Linked DNA regions of Homo sapiens: region 1 is linked to region 2. The links come from fine-mapping of genetic effects on gene expression. Tissue or cell type: prefrontal cortex. Region 2 holds a variant in brackets; the other region holds the start of a gene. All regions are shown on one strand. Distances are between the middles of the regions.

Region 1 (8,048 bases), 45 kb after region 2:
GCAGGATGTCAGTGTATCATTGTGTCTCCAGCTAGCTACCTGATGCTCAGATAAAGTCCCAGACAAGTGTGGTTGAGAGGTGAGGGCTCTCCCTTCTCCCACACAGCCCTCATCTTGCAACTGCATGCTAAGAACACTGGGGCCCTGATCACCCTTGCCCCAACTCATTAGGCAGTGGTTCTGCACAAGGAAAGGAAAGTCTAGAAGGTGGGCTGCTACACTCCCCACCTTCCCCACAAAATGCTCAGCAACTACAAAGGGTATCACTCAGAGACAAGACTGCCATTATCCCCATCCCCAACTCAAGTCCCCAGGCTCTGAGATTTTGCCTAAAGGAAGAATCAGCCCATAAACAGATAACTCCTAATCTCTTCCCAAAGGAGCTGAATTCATTTGCAACAAAGCATAGAGAAGTTCAAACCTGTCTAGGTGTGGTGGCTCATGATGTAATCCCAGCACTTTGGGAGGCCGAGGCAGGTAGATCATTTGAGGTCAGGAGTTTGAGACCGGCCTGACCAACATGGTGAAACCCCGTCTCTCTACTAAAAATACAAAACAAAAATTAGCTGGGCATGGTGGCACATGCCTGTAATCTCAGCTACTTGGGAGGCTGAGGCAGGAGAATCGCTTGAACTCAGGAGGTGGAGGTTGCAGTGAGCTGAGTCCACGCCACTGTGGTACAGCCTAGGTGACAGAGCGAGACTCCGTCTGGGGGAGAGGGGGTGGAGAGAAGTTCAAACCTAAGGGCACTCTCAGGAACAGTGTAGGTTTTAGTGAAAGTAATTAGGAAGACATTCAAGATACAAGCTAAATTGCAGGCCTGTTCACTTGCAGAAGACAATGGGGATATAAGACAATTAGGAGTAGCTACACTGGAGTCACAAGAAATATGAAAGAAAACCTCAAAAACTACTCCTTCAATGGAGCAAGAATTGAAGTAGTTTGTAAGACAATTTATGCCCAGGGCATTGTTAAAAAACAATAGAGCAATCAGCTAACAATTACTGGAGTTTAACAGCTGTGTGCAGTCATAGAAAGAAAGAGATCCCTACCAAAACCACTGTCATCCCAGGATAAAGGTGGGCATATCCAAAGCTGGAGCTTTGGATTCCTGAGGAGCAATATCAAAGGCTTAACAGTATAGGAGGGAAATAGACTTCACTAAATTGATCCAGCCAGTTGCTAAGCAAATACACAAGCAAACAACAATAAGAAGCCCCAGAAGGTAGGCTGCCAGCTCTTCATTTCTGCAGAGATCTCTGTAACTGATCAGATGGAAAATGATTAGATGGATACTGATCTGCACTTATGTGCAACTTTCTGGTAAATCTAAAAGGAACCCAAAGTAAAATGTTTACTTGATAAAAAAAGAAGAAAAGTTAATAAGCAAATAGCGAGAGAAAGTGAAATTTAAAACTACACAAATGTAGATAGTTCTGGCATTATTTCTAATTGAGATCTAAGGAAACATCATTGAGAAGTGCTAGGATTTGAACGAAGGCATGCTAAATCCAGATCTCCTACTCTTAACCACCTCAATATGCTACCTCTTGATCAAAGGTTAAAGAGAGTATAAAAGTTTATCATGTGGCTGTCATAAAATTTTGACATTTAAAGGAAGTCTAGGCTGGGTGCAGTGGCTCACACCTGTGATCCCAACACTTTGGGAGACCAAGGTGGGTGGATCATTTGAGGTCAGGAGTTTGAGACCAGCCTTGCCAATATGGTGAAACCCTGCCTCTACTAAAAATATAAAAAATAGCCAGGCTTGGTGGTGGTTGCCTGTAGTCCCAGCTACTCAGGAGGCTGAGGCAGGAGTAATCACTTGAACAGAGATGGAGGTTGCAGTGAGCCAAGATCGCACCCCTGCACTTCAGCCTGGGTGACAGAGCAAGACTCTGTCTCAAAAAAGAAAAGAAAAAAATGAAGTCTATAGGCATTCACTGTAAAATTCTTTCAACTTTGAGGTCCTCTATGTGTCCATCTAAAAATATGCTTAAGTCTATTCTCAGTAGCTTTATTCATAACAGCCCTAACTATAATAAAAACCCAAATGTCAATCAACAGGAGAATAAACAAATCATGGTATACTCACATAATGGAACACTACACAGCAATGAAAAAGAACTGCTGCTACATACAATGATGGACAATGATCACAGACATAATGTTCAGTTGAAGAAACCAGAATAAAAAAAGAATACATACTGTACCATTTATATTAAGTTCAAGAATAGAAGCAAAACTAATCAGTGATAATAATAATCAGAGTAATGGTTGGGGATCAGGTAGTTATTGACTAGGAAGGGTCACAGGGAACTTTCTGGAGTACAGGAACAGTTCTATTTCTTGATCTGGATGGTGGTTACATTAGTGTATTTATATGTAAAAATTTGTTGAATAATATTAAGATTTGTGCCCTTAACTGCATGAAGCTATACCTCAACAAAACAGTAAGTCTTTTAAAGAGTCTTCCTGCTTTAAAACAGACCATTGGATGCTTTACTCTGCAGTCTAGATAAATACTCATCAGTCATTTGCCCAAACATGATTGGGTTCAGAAAGGGAATCTTAGGCCAGGTGCAGTGGCTCACGCCTGTAATCCTAGCACTTTGGGAGGCCAAGGCAGGTGGATTGCTTGAGTTCAGGAGTTCAAGACCAGCCTGGGCAACATGGTGAAACCCTGTCTCTACTAAAATACAAAAAATTAGCAGGGCATGGTGGTGCACGCCTGTAGTCCCAGCTACTTGGGAGGCTGAGGCACGAGTACTGCTTGAACCCAGGAGGTGGAGATTGCAGTGAGCCAAGATTGCGTCACTGCACTCCAGCCAGCCTGGGTGACAGAGCAACACTGTCTTTAAAAAAAAAAAGGGGGGAATCGTATATTTCACTTTTTCATTTCTCTGATTTCACAGTCAGCAACTCATGGTGTCAATGATGTCACTAGAGATAGCCTTCATGGGGCCGGGTGTGGTGGCTCATGCCTGTAATCCCAGCACTTTGGGAGGCCAAGGTGGGCAAATCACGAGGTCAGGAGATCGAGACCATCCTGGCCAACACAGTGAAACCCCGGCTTTACTAAAAATAAAAAAATTAGCTGGGCATGGTGGCGCGTGCCTGTAATCCCAGCTACTTGGGAGACTCAGGCAGGAGAATCTCTTGAACCCGGGAGGCGGAGGTTGCAGTGAGCCAATATCGCACCACTGCACTCCAGCCCGGCAATAGAGCAAGACTCTGTCTCAAAAATAAAAAAGAGAGAGAGAGATAGCCTTCGGGGCACAAAGTAAAAGTTGCAAAGACCACTGCACGGGCTCTCTTCTCCCATGTGTTCCCACTTCATGCTCCAGGCCTCTGGGCTGCTGGGAATGCAAGAAGCACTTTAACTGGGAAGTCATCAACCTCAATTTTGCCAACAAACTTAAAGGAGTGGAAAAGTTCCCCATGGCATCACCACCATCATAAAGGAGAGTGCTCCCACCACTTTAGAAAGGTTCTCAAATTTGGTTTTCAGACAAGAGCCCTCAGTCACATACATATATCTCATTAAATAAGCAGATGTTTTACTTATTTAACAGGCATCAAATTTTTTGCTTGAGTCCAGATTTAGTGACTGATCCATAAAGTGGAAACAAAGAACAAACAGTATGATTGTTCAGAAAGCAGGATGAACATTTCTCTCCAATAAGGTACCATTTTGTGAGCTCATAGTCCTTGAATACTGAAAATGATGAAAGGAAAAGGAATATTTTATATGCAAAAAGGTAGCATAAGGAGGTGTTCCGATTAGGTGTGATCGACCTAAAAGATTAATGAAACAACAAACCCATCAAAAACGACTACAATTGACAGAAAGCTAGAAACATTAACGGCGTTGGAAAGCTCAAATGACAGAAGTTCACAAATTCTTAATCATCTAATCCAGGCCTCTCCTCATTACCATTCAGACCACTCACAAAGATCCCATTAAATCAGCTCATAATCAGGTTTACAAAAATAAGACTCCTTAAGAGATGTGGCAATGTGAGAAGTGGAGCACGTACACAGGCACAGCAAATGACTACGTTAGTGAAAACTGTAGGGTTTATCATAAGCAAAATGACAGTGCTCTCCTCCGTGAAAAAGAGAAAGAAATCGGACGGGTCTCCTTTAAGTGAAAATAGAGACTGTGAGAACATAAAGACATTGCTGACATCTGTGTTTTAACATTCCATTTATTTAAGGAAAGAGGAGAAAGAAATGTTTGGAATATAAATAAACCCTTCCCTATAGGAAGGTCAGAAATGTAGAAATACGCAGAAGCTGGTGGGAGCAAAAGCCGATCCTGAGACAAGGATATCTAGAGAGGTAGCCCTGGTCGGGATGTGGGAAGAGGCCTGCGAAGAAACAGCAGAACCAAGGGAAAGAAAGGGAAGAACGTCAGGTCCACTGCTCATCCCGAGCGCCTAGAACTGCGCCAGACTCCTGGCATGCGCACAGGACACTGAAGGAAGGGATGAGCTTTTCGGCTAGCGTATTGTCTTTGAGCGACAGAGCGGGATTCCCAAACGTCCCCGCCGGTCACTCAGCTCCTGCAGTTCATGCCTAGCAAGAACCTTGCGGGCGGTCCGAGGCTGCCATCCTTTCACAGCTGTATTTGGGGGCAAAAATAGGGTAACGAAGCCGGGGGCCCAGACTTACTTTTGCAGCCGGGTGCCATAGCGCCCTCACCCCTCGATCCCGAAAACAATGCAGCCGGTGCCTCCACCTCCCGACTGCACCGCGCGCGACTGAATTCCGCCCGCTCAAGATGGCCGCAAATTTGAATTTGGCGCTTGGATCGGACGTTGACGCCCGCATGGAGGCCGCCATGTTGCCCGGCCTACGCATCGGGGGCGTGGCCCAGTGACGTCACAGCTAAGCGCCTCTGTATCGTCGCGAATCCGTCGCGGAACCTGTCTTCTGTCTTTACCCAGAGCTACCATGAGCAAGCGGAACCAGGTATCGTACGTGCGGCCAGCCGAGCCGGCGTTTCTGGCCCGCTTCAAGGAACGGGTCGGCTACAGGGAGGGACCCACCGTAGAGACTAAGGTGAGCCTTCGCCAGTCGTGTTTCTTCGGAAGCGCAGCCAGCCCGCCACTTTCAACTTTTGCCTCTACTTGGAGGGTGGGTGCTGTCGGGTCCCTCTTTTCACCCGCGCTCGAACCCAATTCCGGTGGAACTCGGACCCCCAGGCTGGTTCTTTTCAAGCGACCACAGCCCCCTACGCCCAGGAAGCTCTGTAGTTTTCAGAGCGCTGCTGTGTTCCTGAAAATGAACTGACGTGTAAACCACCTGGTCCTTGGTAGATGGTAAAGAAAGATCACTTTATTGTCTCTTCTTTCTCACTTGTTTACCTCAAAAGCTGTGAGTTCGCAGGGTGAGTTAGAGTTACAGCGTCGTCCCGTATTCCAGATAAGGACACAGGCCACTCGATCAAATGACCCCCGCCCCAACCATGTCCTAGGACTCGAGTCTGGAACGTCTTCGGAGGAATGTCCTGAATCTGTTTCTATGCTTTGTTAATTAAAAATAAATAAAAATAATATAGAGAAGGTCGGGCACAGTGGCTCACGCCTGTAATCCCAGTACTTTGGGAGGCCTAGGTGGGCGGATCACCTGAGGTCAGGAGTTCGAGACCAGCAGAGCCAATAGCCAATATGGTGAAACCCCCCGTCTCTGCTAAAAATACAAAAATTAGCCGGGCATGGTGGCACATGCCTGTAGTCCCAGCTACTCCGGAGGCTGAGACAGAATCGCTCGAACCCGGGAGGTGGACGTTGCAGTGAGTTGAGATGGCGCAGCTGCACTCCAGCCTGGACAACAGAGCGAGACTCCGTCTCAAAAAAAAAAAAAAAAAGCCGGGCCTGGTGGCTCACGCCTGTAATCCCAGCGCTCTGGGAGGCTGAGGCGGCAGATCACGAGGTCAGGAGATCGAGACCATCCTGGCTAAAACAGTGAAACCGCGTCTCTACTAAAAATACAAAAAATTAGCCAGGCATGGTGGCGGGCGCCTGTAGTCCCAGCTACTCGGGAGGCTGAGGCAGGAGAATGGCGTGAACCCAGGAGGAGGAGCTTGCAGTGAGCCGAGATCGCGCCACTGCACTCCAGACTGGGCGACAGAGCGAGACTCCGTCTCAAAAAAAAGAAAAAAAAGAAGAGTAAGCAGAAGCCGTAAATATCCTGGGTCTAAATAGAAGAAGAGGAGCTTCAGGAAAGAGCCACACCTGACTATTGTTGTCTAGGGCCGGAGGGATCAGTATTGAACACATGAATGACAAGAAAGCAAAACAGCTACATTGCTGATACAGAGAAAGTTTTAGTGGTCTGGATAGAAGAGCAAACCAGCCACAACATTCCCTTTAACCAAAGCCTAATCTAGAGCAAGGCCCTAACTCTTAAATCCTGTGAAGTCTGAGACATGTGAGAAAGCTGCAGAAGAAAAGTGTGAAGCTAACAGAGGTTGGTTCATGAGGTTTAAGGAAAGAAGCCATCTCCATAACATAAAAGTATGAGATGAAGAAGCAAATTATTCAGATCTAGCTAAGATAGTTGATGAAGGTGGCTACACTAAACAGGTTTTCAATGTAGATGAAACAGCCTTCTATTGGAAGAAGATGCCATCTAGGACTTTTTTTTTTTTTTTTTTTTTGAGATAGGGTCTCACTCTGTCGCCCAGGCTAGAGTGCAGTGGTGCAATCACAGCTCACTGCAGCCTTGACCTCCTGGGCTCAAGTGATCCTCCTGCCTCAGCCTCTCAAGCAGCTGGGACTACAGGCATGAACTAACGCATCTGGCTAATTTTTGTATTTTTTTGTAGAGACAGGATTCCACTGTGTTGCCAAGGCTGGTCTCAAACTCCTGGACTCAAGCAATCCTCCCACTTTAGCCTCTCAAAGCCTCTCAAAAACCACTATGCCTGGGCCATTTAGGACTTTCATAGCTAGAGAGAAGTCAGTGCCTGGCTTCATATTTTCAAAGGACAGGCTAACTCTCTCATTAGGAGCTAATGCAGCTGGTGACTTTTAAGTTGAAGCTAATACTTACCATTCCAAAAATCCTAGGGTCCGTAAGAATTATGCTAAATCTACTCTGCCTGTGCTCTAGAAATGGAAAAACAAAACCTTGATGACAGCACATCTCTTTATAATATGGTTTACTGAATTATTTTTAGCCCACTGTTGAGACCTACTGCTCAGAAAAAAAAAGATTCTTTCAATATATTATTGCTCATGGACAATACACTTGGTCACCCAAGAACTCTGATGGAGATCTACAAGGAGATTAACGTGGGGTTTTCATGCCTGCTAACACAACATCCATTCTGCAGCCCATGGATCAAGGAGTAATTTCTATTTTCAGTCTTATTATTTAAGAAATAACAGCCAGGCGCAATGGCTCACACTTGTAATCCCAGCACTTTGGGAAGTCAAGGCAGGTGGATTGCTTGAGCCCAGGAGTTCAAGACCAGCCTGGCCAACATGGTGAGACCCCATCTCTACAAAAAATACAAAATTTAGCCCAGTGTGGTGGCATGCACCTGTGGTCCCAGCTACTTGGGAGGCTGAGGTGGGAGGATTCCCTGACCCCAGGTAGGTTGAGGCTGCAGTCAGCCATGATTGCACCACTGCACTCGAGCCTGGGTAACAGAGCCAGACCCTGTCTCAAAAAAAAAAAAAAAAGTCAAAACCATTTGTAAGGCTACAGCTGCCATGGATAGTGATTCCTCTGATGCATCTGGATATTGTAAATTGAAAACTTTATGGAAAGGCTTCACCATTCTAAACACGTTAAGAACATCCATGATTCATGGGAAGAGGGCAAAATATCAACATTAACAGGAATTTGGAAGAGGTTGATTCCAACCTTCATGGATGACTTCGAGAGATTCAGGCCTTCAGTGGAGGAAGTAATTGCAGGTGTGGTAGAACAAGCAAAAGAACTAGAATTAGAAGTAGAGCCTGAAAATGTGACTAAGTTGTTGCAGTCTCATAAAAATTGAACAGATGAGTTGCTTCTTATTGATGAGCAAA
Region 2 (8,261 bases):
TGGACAGTAGAAAACCTTTTTAAAAAATTAACAAACCATAAAAATTCTGGAATAATCAAATTTCACATTATTTCAAATATATTAAAAACTGTCTAAAATTTGATCTATAATAAGATTCTTTTAACTTTCTTTTTTTTTGAGACAGAGTTTCACTCTTGTTGCCCAGGCTAGAGTGCAGTGGCGCGATCTCGGCTCACTGCAACCTCCGCCTCCCGGGTTCAAGCAATTCTCCTGCCTCAGCCTCCCGAGTAGCTGGGATTACAGGCATGTACCACCACACCCGGCTAATTTTGTCTATTTAGTAGAGACGGGGTTTCACCATGTTGGTCAGGCTAGTCTCAAACTCTTGATCTCACGTGATATGCCTGCCTCAGCCTCCCAAAGTGCTGGGATTACAGGCGTGAGCCACCGCACCCGGCCTCTTTTAACTTTTTTTAGCAGATACAGCACTTTGCTATATAAACCAGTTCTGGAACTTGGAGCTAGTGGCCAACTGGTCATTTTATACACTAAGGAACAAAAACCCATGGAGAATGACTTGCTAAAGATTGTAAAGTAGAGACAAAAAGCAAGAGTGGGCTGATTTCCAATCTAGGAATGATTATAAACCCACACTTAAAAAGATATGATTTTAATACTAAGCACTTTTGAACACTGTAACTTATAGGGAATTAAAATAACAAAGCAAATGTATTTAAATGGATGTCCAGTTATTTATTTTTTCTAGAACAAAACATTACCTGCACTGTTCTAAGCTCTTCAGAAATGGCCTCAAAAGCTTGTTCATTCATCTCAGGAGGAACTGGCTCATTTAATATATCATTATCTAATATGCTAGAATTCTGAGTGTATAGAGAGCCAAAGCTTCCCATTTCAGGGCTTAATTTTGGTACTGGTCGGGAATGAAGTTGGTAGGCCTTGGTTGGTGTAGTTATAATCTGCAGCAAAAAATGATTATGGAAAACATTAGCACATATTTAAAAAGGGCATATTTAATAATTTTGTGAATAGAGAGGATAAAATTGAAATACTATTCATGAAAAGAAAGGAAAAAGTACCCTTGAGACACAGTACAAAAATGCCCAAGTGGAAATAAATTTATCAATTCAATGCAGTCCCAAGCAAAATTCTAATACAATTTTTAAAAATAAACTTAATGAGCTGATATCTATTTTCATACAAAGAATAAATGTACAAGAAGAGACAAGACAATTAAAAAGAACAAGCCAGGCATGGTGGTTCATGGCTATAATCCCAACACCGTGGGAGGCTGAGAAGGGGAGGATCACTTGAGGCCAGGAGTCCAAGACCAGGCTGGGCAACATAGTGAGATCCTGTCTCTACCAAAAAAAAAAATCATTTTAATTAGCTGGGCATGGTGTCCCAGGCCTGTAGTCCCAGCTACTTGGGAAGCTGAGGCAGGAGGATCCCCAGAGCCCAGGTGTTCTAGGTTGCAGTGAGCTATTATCACACCATTGCACTCCAGCCTGAGTGACAGACTGAGACCCTGTCTCTCAAAAAAATAAAAATAAAAAGAACAAATTAGGAAGACTTCCCCATCTGATATAAAAATACATAGGGGTATGGGAGTATGGTCATTAAAATAGTACATTACATTACAGTACATTATATTAAAACAGTACATTAGCTTATGTACATTCAAATAGAACACTGGGAGGAAATACAAAGTCCAGAAATAGAATTATTATTATTTTTTGAGACACAGTCTTGTTCTGTTGCCCAGGCTGGAGTGCAGTGGTGTAATCTTGGCTCACCACAACCTCTGCCTCCCAGGTTCAAGCAATTCTCCTGCCTCAGCCTCCCAAGTAGCTGGGACTACAGGCACACACCACCATGCCTGGTTAATTTTTGTAGTTTTAGTAGAGATGGGGTTTCACCATGTTGGCCAGGCTGGTCTCCAACTCCTGGCCTCAAGTGATCTGCCCGCTTTGGCCTCCCAAAGTGCTAGAATTACAGGCGTGAGACACCACACCCCGCCCAGAAATAGAATAATCTTTCTGTGGAAATTTTAGGTATCAGGAGTAGTTGAGACCAAAGGTGCACACCACCATGCTTGGCTAATTTAAATTTTTTTTTTTTTTGCAGAGGTAGGGTCTTACTATGTTGCCCAAGCTGGTCTTGAACTCCTAGATTCAAGCAATCCTCCTGCTTCTGCCTCCCCAAGTGTTAAGATTACAGGTGTGAGCCACTATGCCTAGCTGTATTACTTTTTTTAAGTTAAATCCCTTTCTCATACCATTCAAAAGAAAAACAGTGGATACACAAACACCTCAATGTAAAGCAAAATTAAAGGCAAAAAAGTCATAAAGATAAAAGGTCAATAAACCTGGCTACATCAAAAATATAAAACTTCTATATAACAAAAGCATCACATGCAAAGATGAAAGACAAGCAACATGATGGAGGAATATATTGGCAGTACACCTAACAAACAAATGCTTATTACATAAAAACAAAATCTGAAGAAAAATATAAAAAAACAATAGTTTTTCTTTTCAGGGAATAGGATATACAAATGGACATGAACATATGAAAAGATATTTGAAATTAGAGAAATGAGAATTAAAACCTTAACAACAAGATCTCATTTTTTACCCATCAGATGGTCAAACATTAACAAGCATGACAATCCCAGTTCCTGCGGACAGTGCTGGGAAAGGAGTGCATCTATGCATCTATGCTGCGGGAACAGGGCACTAGGAGGGAGCTTCAGCTTGACTCACTCAAATGCTAAGACATCCTAAAATGACCACTTCTCCTTTAACGGAATCCACCCCCAGAGAATGCACGCACTGGAAACCATCTACTTAAGCCATAGAAACCTAGGGTTAAAATGAGGTAGGTACCAGTTAATATGGAAAGATCCAAGGCATATCCCCCAAGGGGATATCCCTCATGGTGCTTCAAGCTCTATAATTCAAGCTCTATAATTCTTCTGTCCCTCAAAGGAGATGCCTTGGATCTTTCCACATTAACTGGTATGAGGCTCATAACCCTTGAGCCTCACGTTAACTGGTATGAGGCTCATATTCCTTGAGCCTCACATCCAAATGAGGCTCTAGGTACCAGTTAATGTGGAAAGATCTAAGGCATATCCCTGAGTTAACAAAAGCATATTGTGGAATAACACATGAAGAATGACCGTTTTTTTT[T/A]AAAAAAAAAAAAAAAAGCAAAACAATACACAATCTAGGAAACAACTCTATGTGTTTTCTCAGTCTGTATATATTAACAGTACAAAAATGCTAAGAAAAAGGATTAAACTACCTCCAGGGATTGTGGGGACAAAGGATTATATTAGATCCAGATTGGAAGTGATGCTGAAAAGGAATTTTAACTTTAACTTGAAATATGTGTCTTTCTTTTAAACAAAGAGAATGTATTCATATAGTAGTTGTCCAACTAAAACAACAACAAAGACTCTGAATTGCTATGCCCCTCCTGGCAAACCTAATCCTCTGAGTCCTGTTTGCTCAGTCATAAAAGGAAGAAGTAGGACGAGAATGCCGTGGTGCTTCAAGCTCTATAATTCCATTGTGCTAAGGGGCTACAGACACAGAATTATAAAACATTTGGCAGTATTCTGCAAGTATTTTTCAATAATTTCTTACAAAAACTTCAAAGACCACCTTTTTTAAAAAGCAACAGTAAAAAAAAATTCTGGTCAGGCATGGTGGCTCACACCTGTAATCCTAGTGCTCTGGGAGGCTGAGGCTCCAGGAGGATCACTTGAAGCCAGGAGTTCAAGGCTGCAGTGAGCCATGATCATGCCACTGCACTCCAGCCTGAGTGACAGAGCAAGACTCTGTCTCTAAAAAACAAAACCAAAAATAAATAAATAAAATAAATCAAAATTTAAAAATAATTTTTAAATTTCTACCTGTATAGGAAAAAACCCAGCATTTTCCAGGTTGAATAAATCATTATATATCCACATAACATTCTTGAGCTGCTGCCAAAACAAATAAAAAATCAAAACAGAAACAAAAAGGGGGAGAACATTTTTTCCCCTGCAGACATGGGACAAACTCTAAAATATTGCTTTAAAACACACACACACACACACACACCCTCAAGCTGTAGAATGATGTGTATGTTATGCCACCATTTGTGTAAAGTGAGAAAATACTTGGTGACATTGATTGACTTGGTGACACTGATTGCCTCCAGTTCTTGGTTGGCTGGAAGAACAACAGAAGGAAAGAGATTTGCTACTAAATGCCTTTGAAAATTTCAGTCACAGGCTGGGCGCGGTGGCTCACACCTATAATCCCAGCACTTTGGGAGGCGAGACGGGCGGATCACCTGAGGTCAGGAGTTCGAGACTAGCCTGGCCAACATGGTGAAACCTCGTCTCTACTAAAAATACAAAAATCAGCTGGGTGTTGGGGCAGGCGCCTGGAATCCCAACTACTCGGGAGGCAGAGGCAGGAGAATCGCTTGAACCCAGGAAGCAGAGGTTGCAGTGAGCCAAGATCGTGCCACTGCACTCCAACCTGGGCAACAAGAGCAAAACTCCGTCTCAAAAAAAAAAGAAAAGAAAGGAAATTTCAGTCACATAAATTACCTATTCAAATGAATACAAGTAGTCTTCCATTAAGTGACACAAAAAGCACCACTACTAAAAATAATCATTATAAATAAACATCTATTTATATTCTAAGACATATAAGGAAAGGTTTTCGGTCTTCTCTATTTCTTTCTTTTATTGAAAAGAACTTGAGGCCAGCGCAGTGGCTCTTGCCTGTAATCCTAGCACTTTGGGAGGCCGAGGCAGGCAGATCACGAGGTCATGAGTTCGAGACCAGCCTGGCCAACATGGCGAAACCCCATCTCTACTGAAAATACAAAAATTATCCGGGCATGGTGGCAGGCGCCTGTAATCCCAGCTACTCGGGAGGCTGAGGCAGGAGAATCGCTTGAACCTGGGAGGCGGAGGTTGCAGTGAGCTGAGATTGCACCACTGCACTCCAGCCTGGCCGACAGAGCAAGACTCTGTCTTAAAAAAAAGAAAAGAAAAGAAAAGAACTTGAATTCAAGCTGGACTTGAATTCCTGGGCTCAAGCAATCCTCTTGCCTCAACCTCCCAAACAGCCGGGACTACAGGCCTGCACCACCACACCCAGCTAAGGAAAAAATTTTTTAACCTTCAAAAAATTGGATACAAAAGCTGAAATCAGTATCACCTCCTCAACCTTTTGTTTTCCTTGTGTACTTCCTTTCTCTCTCCTCATTCTCAGTTGTTCACACATTTTTTTTTCTTTTATGAGGGATGTGGTTATTTAGGACAAAACCCTCTCATGTTATTTCCAGTGGCACCTGTGATCCCTTAGCGGTCTTTGCCCATTAGGGTTTCTATTCTACTGAAAACTTTGAGGACATGTTATATTGTAGTAATAGCTGCCATTTTACTGATATCTACAAGGTACCAGGCAGCTTATCTATCTCATTTAGTACTCTAAAACTCTGCAAGTAAATTACCTTCATTTCCAATTTAGAGAAAAGAAAGATAAGGCTCAGAAGTTAGGAAACCCTGACTAAAGTTAATGGCACATTCGAATTTGATTGCAAATGCTGAATTCTTTCCTACCCCACCCTACCACTGGGGGGATACATCAGTGGGATTGCTAGCAGTAACCCAAAGACCAGTGTGACACCGGTGTTAATTACCTGCATGGGATGTCATCTGCATCTGGAGATAGACCATGCAGACTCTCTCCATTATTAATAAAATGACATTGCACTGATTTAAGGTGGAGGTATTGTTCAGATGACCTACCTTAAGTGTTTCAGCATGAATTTTATTCAGCTGAGAAACTTCTTGCCGCTTGCAGGCTTTTGTTGCTTCCAAAAGGTTTTCAAGATTAAGGTTCGCTTTTTGCAAAGACTGAAGCTCTGATTCCAATTCTAGCTGCCTTTTCCTAATAGATATTGTAAAACGGAGTATTTCAGGTAATAAGTAATGTCAAACATTTATAGAATACTTTACAGTTTATGCTCTCACATAACTTTATAGTTATCTCTAAATCAGAGATATTCTCTATTCTCTCAGATTATTCCCATCATTCTCCAGTTCAGTAAACTACAGCTCAGAGACTGTTTAAGGGATTCAACTAGTAAATGGTAGGGCTCAAATTCAAAAGCCCAAACAAATAGTCCATGATTATACCATATGTGATATGTCATTTTTGAACCAAACATTTGTTTATATTTTAGGGTAAGATTGATCTTAGTTATAATATGAATGTGATTTATCTTTGTTTTTACATAGTGAGAATCAAGTAGGAATATTAACAAACCTATACTTCCTAAAAGTCTTAACAACTCTGATTATCAAATTTAAATTTAAATAATTTACTATGCAAGTTCAATAGACTCTCAACAGGAAAAAACTGCTTAAAACACCTGTATTACCTAGTTCATTGAATATATTAGTAAAGAGCTAGAAGCATGCTCTTTCTCTTCATGTCAAAGTAGTTGCTGCTATGAGAGTTTAATATTTAAAGTAAAATGCCCAATTGAATTATCGATATTAACACTACAGCAAATGAACACTGAAAGAAAATAAGTGTGCATGCATGTGTATTTAGACTTTACCTAGTAAGTTCTTTGAATTCTTCATATTCTTGCTTTGAATTATTCAGCTCTGTCTGAATTTGCAGGAGTTGTGCTTTTAACTTCTCAGTGTTTGCAAACAAACATGGCTCTTTCTGAGCTTTAGGTGAAAATCCTTGCTGATCTGTTAATAAGAAAACAATCTCAGTCTTTTTTTTTTTTTTTCTGAGACAGGGCCTCACTATGTTGCCCAGGCTAGAGTGCAGTGGCTATTCACAAGCATGATCATAGTGTACTAAAGCCCCAAATTCTGGTCTCAAGTGAACCCCCTGCTTTAGCCTCCCAAATAGTTGGGACTACAGGTGCATGCCACCATGCCTAGCTTTACAACTTCAGTGTTTGACAAGCAAAAATAACAGGACACATTTTCTAAGTTCTCTGTCAGGTATCAATTTTGGGCCACAAGGAGGAAAAGTGAGAAATGGGTTGGAAAGCGAGCCCTAAAATACAAAAGCTTATAACTCAGCAGAAGGCACAGGATGTGACACAGTGTGCCAAAGGGGATTAGAAGTCATGTTTAAGAAGCAGATGCCACAGGATGGAGAAGTGTAGTTAAGGCAACACCTTTCCCATTAGGAGAAAGAACAAACAATGACGAAAGTGTGGCACGCCTAATGCTAGACAGAGAAACAGCAGCCAGTGAATCTTGTAGGAATTAGTGCTAGCAGCTAATGTTAACAGCCAAGGAATTATTTAGAAAAGGAAACAAATAGCAAGGGCAGCAGGTTGTAAGAACCCGGTATCATCTATCAGGTAGAAAATATTAATTTTCAGGAAATGCCTAGAACACTGAATATGTTGAAGAGAGTCCACTGAGTTTCAGTGTGGGAAAAGATCATGTAAAAGTTGTTTAGAGAATGATCAATGTTTAGAAACTGATGAGATCCAGACATTAGTATCTTCTGAAGGGAGTAAGTCAAGGTATTATGGAGGCCACAACAAAATGGCCAACAAAATAAAGGGCACTGTAGGGAAAAGTAGTTTAAATAAAACAGAAAACCTAAGTCAGGCGTTGGGGCTCACATCTGTAATCCCAGCACTTTGGGAGGCCGAAGTGGGTGGATCATTTGAAGCCAGAAGTTCAAGACCAGCCTGGCCAACATGGTGAAACCCCATCTCTACCAAAAATACAAAAATTGGCTCGGTGTGGTGGTGTGTGACTGTAATCCCAGGAGGGAGCCTGAGGCAGGAGAATTGCTTGAATCCAGGAGGTGGAGGTTGCAGTGAGCCGAGATCGCACCACTGCACTACAGCCTGGGTGACAGAGTGAGACTCCATCTCAAAAAAAACAACAGAAAACCTGATAGTAATTTTGCATCTAATATCTTAAGTCTCTCCCCAACCCAGTTACTGTGACTCTTATTATTCTATTCAGTCATAACAGAATGGAAGAAGGCTTAAAAAATGAAATTTTAAAAAGCAAAGAGACAGTCTTCTTTATGAATGCAGAATAAAAACATTAGAACTTTTTCAATTTCAACCTAAAAGGAAACCAAGGCCAAGTCTATGATAAAAGACCGTGAAAATATTAACTCTAAGACTGGGGCAAACACAGACTTTGTTACCAAATCCCAGGGTATGAACACCAACAGCTGTCAAGACTGTAAGGCAGATTTAGTATTAACTAA

Alleles and levels. Alleles are on the strand shown, and positions count from the first base shown. SD is a standard deviation of normalised expression in the study named.
For the expression in prefrontal cortex of the gene that starts at base 4,768 in region 1, allele T in region 2 goes with a higher level than allele A (small effect, 0.33 SD a copy in ROSMAP).

The links. PIP is the estimated chance that this variant, and not a neighbour inherited with it, causes the effect.
Region 1: it holds the start of KIF15, and the variant in region 2 is fine-mapped to the expression of KIF15 in prefrontal cortex (ROSMAP, PIP 0.95).

What each region holds. Positions count from the first base shown.
Region 1 is chr3:44,758,514-44,766,561 of GRCh38, reverse strand. KIF15 (kinesin family member 15) reads right to left here and starts at 4,768. Exons shown (of 35, transcript NM_020242.3): 1 at 4,678-4,768. The coding sequence starts at 4,696. It overlaps KIAA1143, which reads left to right and starts at 4,943. Exons shown (of 3, transcript NM_020696.4): 1 at 4,943-5,067. The coding sequence starts at 4,960. RefSeq lists enhancers at 4,718-4,997, 5,788-6,430.
Region 2 is chr3:44,803,523-44,811,783 of GRCh38, reverse strand. KIF15 (kinesin family member 15) reads right to left here. Exons shown (of 35, transcript NM_020242.3): 15 at 6,616-6,757; 16 at 5,798-5,939; 17 at 741-938. Among named protein-coding and RNA genes, the nearest start is that of KIF15, 46 kb to the right of the region's middle. The variant T/A (reference allele first, on the strand shown) is at 3,174.